2 linked regions of the Homo sapiens genome follow. The protein of the gene in region 1 interacts with the protein of each later gene in a pairwise test. Each region holds a gene or a part of one and is shown on either strand. Other genes may lie near its edges. The genes, in order: HEMGN and DCC.

Region 1 (3,830 bases):
AACAGCACCTTCCACCCCAGCTGTGACAACAAAATGTCTCCAAACATTGTCAAAAGTCTTCTGGGGTGGGGTTGGGGGAAGACAGGCAAAATCATCCCCAGTTGAGAACCACTAATTTAAGCAAAGCACTCTTCCTAAGAAAGGGCATTTTCCAATCCCCAAACCCCGCTGTGGACTGAGCACTGTCTGTTCTGCTACAACAGATGTTTCTATAACACCAAGTTCACATACGATTGATAAATAGGAGAATGATGTCAGTATAATGTGGGGGTTGTGTTGGTTCATGATTTTTTCCTAGTCAGAAGAAAGCAGAATAGTGGGAAGAGAATTAAAGCTTTCAGCTGGAAAGAAAAAGCCTTCAGCTTGGCTGTTGTATAAGCAGGATTCTTTTCAGCCAGCATCCAGGGTTCCCTCCTCAGAGAGGCACAACACCAGCCTTGCGCAGCTCTCCATCAAGTGGCAGCTTGCACTTCCCTCCTGTGCCCAACTTAACGGCAACCCCGCTGGCTCAGAGCTCAGGTCTCAGCAGCTTCAAGCCTGCAATTACACTATATTTGCATTTACTATCCCCTGAGGCAGCCTCCAGCCACAGTAAACTGCTTGTCTAGACCATCCAAGTTCTCTCTCCTGGTACCAATTATTGTTTTAGTTAGTGTTAAAATGTTGCAAGGGTTTTGAATCATTTGTCCCAAGCCTATTTGCCCCACCTCCATAACCACTGTAACTTTATAGAGGATGATTTTGCAGAAAGTGAGGTTTTTTTAGGAACACGTGTATCATTTTACAGTAGAAATATTTGTATTAGGGTCCTGTGGCAGGTCTATTGAAGATTATCCAATTAGCTCCCAAATTCCATACCACTAAGCAATCTTCCAATCATTACTTGGCTTCCCAAGTACTTATCTACAGAGACGGTGCATTTGTTTGGGAGCCCAGAACCCAGGTATTCTCCTCCCCTCCCCTCCCCCCTCCCCTCCCCTCCCCCTCCTCTCCCCCATCCCCTCCTCTCTCCTCCCCTCTCCTCTCCTTTTCTTTTTTCTCTTTCTCTCATTCATTCATTCATTCACTCGTTTTGAGACAGAGTCTCACTCTGCTGCCCAGGCTGGAGTGCAGTGGCACAATCTCGGCTCACTGCAACCTCTGCCTCCCAGGTTCAAGTGACTCTCCTGCCTCAGCTCCCAAGTAGCTGGGAATACAGGCACTGGCCACCACGCCCAGCTAGTTTTTGTATTTTTTAGTAGAGACGGGGTTTCGCCATGATGGCCAGGCTGGTCTGGAACTCCTGGCTTCAAGTGATTCGCCCACCTTGGCCTCCCAAAGTGCTGGGATTACAGGCGTGAGCCACTGTGCCCAGCCAGTCCAGGTATTTTCTACTATGTGACTTTGTATGTCTGTTCATTTAAAAATTGGTCTTTAGGTTTATATGTCAGTCTCCTTAAATCTGCTTGATGAGCTCTGCCCCTGATAAATGGAGGTAGTCTCAGTGTGCTAACAGAATCAGGTTTCTGGGCTTGCTGGGCTGAGGGTATTCACTCAAATGGATAACACCTTAGTGAGCCTCTTGGCAGCTGGCTGGACTTGCTCTGGTGATACATCTCTATAATGCTAAGGCCTGTGCCCTCTTTTCTCACTACAACACACCATACAGTGAAACTTTATTAGTTTCAGAGAGAGGCAGCAGAGTGCATGGTTATGAGCCTGGCTGTTAAAGCCAGAATGACTAGATTCGTAGCCTGGCTCCCCTACTTGGTAGCCAGAGCCCTTGGAAATATTATGGAAAATAAATAATTCTCATTATAAACGAATAGATTGGCACTCTGGTTTATATACTAGTCTCTTTGCATTTAGTCTGTGTGTATTACTTCACTACCCCTGAGTAAACTCATACTCAGGGTTTCTAGACCTGCAATCCAGGCACGGCTCCTTATCTGTGCAGCCTGCAGGTGGATAATGTATATGGCTTGATTATCAAATACAAGTGTTGGGCAAGTTACTCAACATCTCTGTGTTTCAGTTTTGTCATTTGCAAAATGAAAATAATAACTACCTACTTCATAGACTGATGTGAAGATTATATGAGATAACAAAATAACTAAATTATTTAAACGGTGCCTGACATATACAAGCACTATAAGTGTTTCCTGTATTCATATGAGTCCTAATTTATATTTGAATAATTCATTCATGTAAGTTATTATATATAATTCTTATAACCACCACATGAAATTGGGCCGATATTATTTACCTCATTTCACTTACAAGGAAACCAAGGCATGTAGAGGTTAAGTGACTTGCCCACAACCATGAGAGAGTACAGACTAAAGTTTAGGCCACATAGGTATTTTTTGCATTTTTTGAAAAACTACCTGGGAAGACATGGACTATTACATTACTCAGATCTCCTCATACAGAGATTTAAATAACAACTTCTTTAGGATTTAATATCTAGGAAAAAATATGTGTTTCCTAAGGAACTTGGATTACTATTAATATCTTTTTCAAAAAATTTATCAGAATTTTATGATTTATCTTGTCACCTTGGTTACTTGTAGTAATAGTTCAAAATGCTGAGGTGCCATAACCATCATCTTTAGATTTCCTTTTTTTTTTTTTTTTTGAGACAGAGTCTCATTCTGTCACCCAGGCTGGAGTGCAGTGGCACAATCTCAGCTCACTGCAACCTCCATCTCCTGGGTTCAAGCGATTCTCTTGCCTCAGCCTCCCAAGTAGCTGGGATTACAGACGCGCACCACCATGCCTGGCTAATTTTTGTATTTTTAGTAGAGACGGGGTTTCACTATGTTGGCCAGGCTGGTCTTGAACTCCTGATCTCGTGATCCACCAGCCTCGGCCTCCCAGAGTGCTGGGATTACAGGCGTGAGCCAACGCACCCGGCCTAGATTTCCTTTTTTAAATATAATTTTCAATATTATTTTAGACTGCTCTGTTACATCTATACCTTTTTTTCTTTTTTTCTATAGCCTCATATTAGAAGTGAACATATATACTTTTTTGGTATTGACTTCAAACTGTGTTTGGTGAGGTAATCTTTTAAAAACACTTTTTTACAACGGAAATTTCAAACATACACAAAAAATGGAACAGGGTATACTTTTTTTAAATATGCAAGGAACGATGGGCACTATAAAGATGTAAAAAACACTGGTTTTTATCTCCAAAGACTGTCTAAAATGTTTACTAAAAGAAATACAGTTTCTTCAGAAATAACTACAGTATGAGGCAGCCTACATTCCTTGCCTTTAGCATGGTACACCCAATAAGTCCTATAGGAGTGCTAAGCTGGGAGAGCATTTTAGTCCTGTAGTCTCTTAGAGAAGGCTCCATGGAGCGGGTAGCATGAAACAGAATTTCAGTAGATTTAGAAAAATGATGAAATGCTTATTTATAGTACTTCCCCCAGCCCCCAGCCCCCAGCCCATCTGTATTAGCCATCTGTATTTGGTTGTATTTGCAGTGCCTAACAATTTGTCACTGGCTGCAATTACCATGCATATCCTTTCATCTTCTAGATCTTTAATTTATTAATTAGGAATAGGTATAATATGGCCACTCATGCCTATCTACCTGACTTCTTAACTTCAAGAAGTGCTTTTGCAGCTTTTGACCCCTTACAGTATACCTCATTTGATATATACTGTAGCAACTTAGAATTCTTTACACAAAATAATGTATTTGATAATCAAGCCATATACAGCATCCACCTGCAGGCTGCACAGACGAGGAGCTGTGCCAGGTCTAGAAACTCGATTTGTATGAGTTTACTCAGGGGTAGGGAAGTAACACACAAAGACTAAATGCAAAGAGACTAG
Region 2 (3,830 bases), on another chromosome or scaffold:
TTTATGTCTCCAGAATATAGAGGTTGATGGACTATCTTATAAACTGGAAGGCCTGAAAAAATTCACCGAATATAGTCTTCGATTCTTAGCTTATAATCGCTATGGTCCGGGCGTCTCTACTGATGATATAACAGTGGTTACACTTTCTGACGGTAAGTTAAAAACAGTGAAACTCCTTTTACATATTTGACATAATATTGACAATAATGACATGATATTGCACATATATCATATATTCCATTTTCAAGGCTTCCTGACTAAAATTTTATGGACTATTACAGTTAAATGTAAACTTTCTATCAAGATACATACTCCCAGCTGGATGTGGTAGTTCACACAGGTAATCCTAGCACTTTAAGAGACTGAGGCAGGAGGATGAGTTAAGCCTAGGAGTTCAAGACCCACCTGAACAACATAGTGAGACCCTATCTCTGTAAATGTTTTTTTTTTTTTTTTTTAATTAACTGGATATGGTGGCATGCACCTGCGATCCCAGCTACTTGGGAGGCTCATTCTGGAGGATCACTTGAGCCTGGGAGTTCAAGACTGCAGTAAGCTGTGATCGTTCTACTGCACTCCAGCCTGGGCAACAGAGTAAGACCCTTTCTCCAAATTAAATAAATATATATGTATATATGTATATACATATGTATATACTCTTGAGTCAGTATATACTAATAGGTAATCCTCAAAATGTGACTATTGACTAAGAGCTAAAACTTTGTGTATTTTTTATTTCTTTACATTTTCTAATACACATTTGTGCATGTGTGGATTAATTTTGATTGGCATGTTTTATTCCCCCATCTAAAAGTGTGCAGATGATTAAAGGTGTAAATGATAGACAATCCCCCTATATTTACCTCTTAATTAGAAAATATATCAAAAGGAATTAGGCCAAATAAGCTGATATTAAAATTTAAAGTATTAAAATTGAGCATGAAAAATGTGTATGTTGCCTACTAAATGGAAGAATAGACACAAACACACACATTTGAGACAAGAAGTGCAGTGACTCAATTGTGCTTCACTACACCCTTTATTCCTGGGCTCAAGGGCTTTTCTTTTCTTTTCCTTTTTTGGAAACGGAGTCTCGCTCTGTCACCCAGGTTGGCATGCAGTGGTGCAGTCTCAGCTCACTGCAACCTCCACCTCTCGGGTTTAAGTGATTCTCCTGCCCCCAGCCTCCTGAGTACCTGGGATTACAGGTGCATGCCACCACCCCTGGCTAGTTTTTGTATTTTTAGTAGAGACAGAGTTTCACCATGCTGAGCAGGCTGGTCTGGAACTCCTGACCTCAAGTGATCCACCCGCCTTGGCCTCACATAGTGCTGGGATTACAAGCGTGAGCCACTGCACCCAGCCTCAAGGGATTTTCCTGCCGAAGCCTCCCGAGTAGCTGGAACTACAGGCATAGGCCACAGCACCCAGCTAATATTTTTATTTTTTGCAGAGGCAGGGTCTCACTTTGTTGCCCAGGCTAGACCTGTTTTTGAATGCCATAAAAGAGAGGAACAAATCTTAATAAAGAGAATAAATTTGACAAAATAATGGCCAGGGGAAACTAGAAACCTAACTGCTAGATGATCATGAAAGGTTGGGAAATTTTATAAAAAGTGAAAATAAAATACATCAAAGTATATGATGTGGGGCCAACGAAAACTCAGGCAGGTGCAGAAATGTAGCGATAGGCCCTTGTGAATATTAAAAAAGGCCACAAGCTAGCTCTTTTCAGCAACAATTTCCATTTGGTGTGTTTAATTCTATAAATTATTTATCTTTTTAATTAAAAAATGACTTTAGCTTGTGATTTCTTGACAGATCTATCATTGTTTATTCTGGGAAAGTACCTGGGTGTACATTTCACACAATATCAGTGAAATGAGGAAGGGCATGCATATTATTAAGGACAGTACAAAGAGAACACAGGAATAATGCTCATTTGCAAATTCAACTTTAAAATGTATTTTATACGTAATACCACTTTGGTATCATTTTTAATGTAATTCTTAGGCCCATCCATCCAATTCTGTTATTGAAGACAGAACAGAATATTTATTGGTAGAATAAATTACTTCACAACTTATAATTATAAAAATAAAAGAAAAACAAATGAAAGTGAATGTTTTACATAATTTATGTAGATTTCATTCACTCTGAACTGTAATACTGTGGCCTGATTCTCCACTTTGGTTTTAAATGTCATAAGTGAGAAAGATAGATTATTATTCATTAGTCCAAGAATTATCTTCTGGAAATGTTACAATGTTTAGGACTTAGACAGTGTCTGTCAGTATAAAAAAAGTATTTCGTGACCCTAACCCCAATAAACATCACTGTGCAAAGGACACCAAATTCTCTCTCTCAAATGCACTGAAAGGAGATAGCAAGGACTTTATAAGCTTCTTAGAGTGGACACCGTGACCTCGTTTGCATTCATTTTTACAATCAACCCATCTCTTTTAATGTCCAACACAAATGTGTGGCTCTTGGCTTTCATTTCCTTATTATCCAGTTCCTTTCTGTCTACTTCAATCTCATGTCTCCTCCTCTGTCCTGAAGCTGTTCATGCTGAGGTCATATATCACATTGAGTTGTATTTAATCACATTTAATAGTCACCTGCTTCCCAGTCTTCAGTCATGGAGCACTCTTCTTCGTTAACTTTATGTATGTTGTAACAGGTGGATGTTGTGAAAATTAAATGGGCTGATCTGTGTAAACATCTAACAAAGTGTATGACATTTAAGTGTTTAATAAACATTATCTCTACCAAAGTGCACTTCACTTTTTCTCATTATATTAATATTAAATACCCCTAAATATGAAGGATGCTGTTATATTCACCTCTGTTTTCTTCCTGAGTAAATATTTATCGAATTAATTAGACAGCTCAGTCAAAACTGTGCAAATTTCTGTATGCAAAGGCTTATCTTTAGGATTTCCCATTTGTGGAACTAATTTGATATATTAATTTAATATATGACTGTGTCTAAATGCATCTGTATTATAGTGAACATAATAATTCTTTTCATATCAGGAGTCTTACCATAAAAAATATATTGAGACATAGAAAAATTTTTAAAAAAGCAAAAGTTAAGTGTAAATACATTTCTTCCAATTTCATTACTTTATGTTTTTTTTTCCCTGTTCTACTGGGATGCTTGTAAAGATCTTTGTCCAGATGAGCTGTCATCTCTAATTTAGCTCGGCTTTATTTTCTGAGTAGAAACCTTATTTTTTATTCAAATTCCTCCACCTAGAAAACCACTGGTTTACAATGAGCCATTTTTTTTTCACACCACTGAGATTATACAGCATATGATCATCTAAATAATTTTGCCAATTTGTTCCAAAATACTGTCTCTTGCACTAGTTGGTAAGTCACTAAGAGCTTTTATGAACGAATGAACCATTGAAAGTTTCCATGCCAGCTTGTCCTGTGTCCAAATGCAGAAGGACCTGATTTCATAGGCAACATAAGAATGTGCTTATTATTTTTATGAATGTTATTAATATTTCTTGAATACTTACTAATGGAAGGCCCTGATCCAAGTACTTTGCCTTTACCTTTCATCCTCACGATACTACTAAAATTTTCCCTACTTTACAGATGACAAAACTAAGTCAGAAAGAGTTCACAACAGGTAGTAAGCAGCAGAGCCAGACCACATAAGCTAGTAAATTCAGAGGCAAGATTCATTGTGGAAACATGTTTCTTTTATTCTATGATAAGTGCCTTTAAAGGAAAATGCTTATAATTAAATATGAATTACTGGCCAGGCATGGTGGCTCACTCTTGTAATCCCAGCACTGTGGGAGGCCCAGGCG

The links.
Region 2: the proteins of HEMGN (region 1) and DCC interact in a two-hybrid assay, tested with the Homo sapiens proteins (one large-scale study listed by BioGRID and IntAct).

What each region holds. Positions count from the first base shown.
Region 1 is NC_000009.12:97,931,591-97,935,420, reverse strand, and holds part of HEMGN (hemogen), read left to right. Parts: intron 1-3,830. UniProt on the Homo sapiens protein: Regulates the proliferation and differentiation of hematopoietic cells. Overexpression block the TPA-induced megakaryocytic differentiation in the K562 cell model. May also prevent cell apoptosis through the activation of the nuclear factor-kappa B (NF-kB).
Region 2 is NC_000018.10:53,207,666-53,211,495, forward strand, and holds part of DCC (netrin receptor DCC), read left to right. Parts: intron 1-13; coding exon 14-152; intron 153-3,830. UniProt on the Homo sapiens protein: Receptor for netrin required for axon guidance. Mediates axon attraction of neuronal growth cones in the developing nervous system upon ligand binding. Its association with UNC5 proteins may trigger signaling for axon repulsion.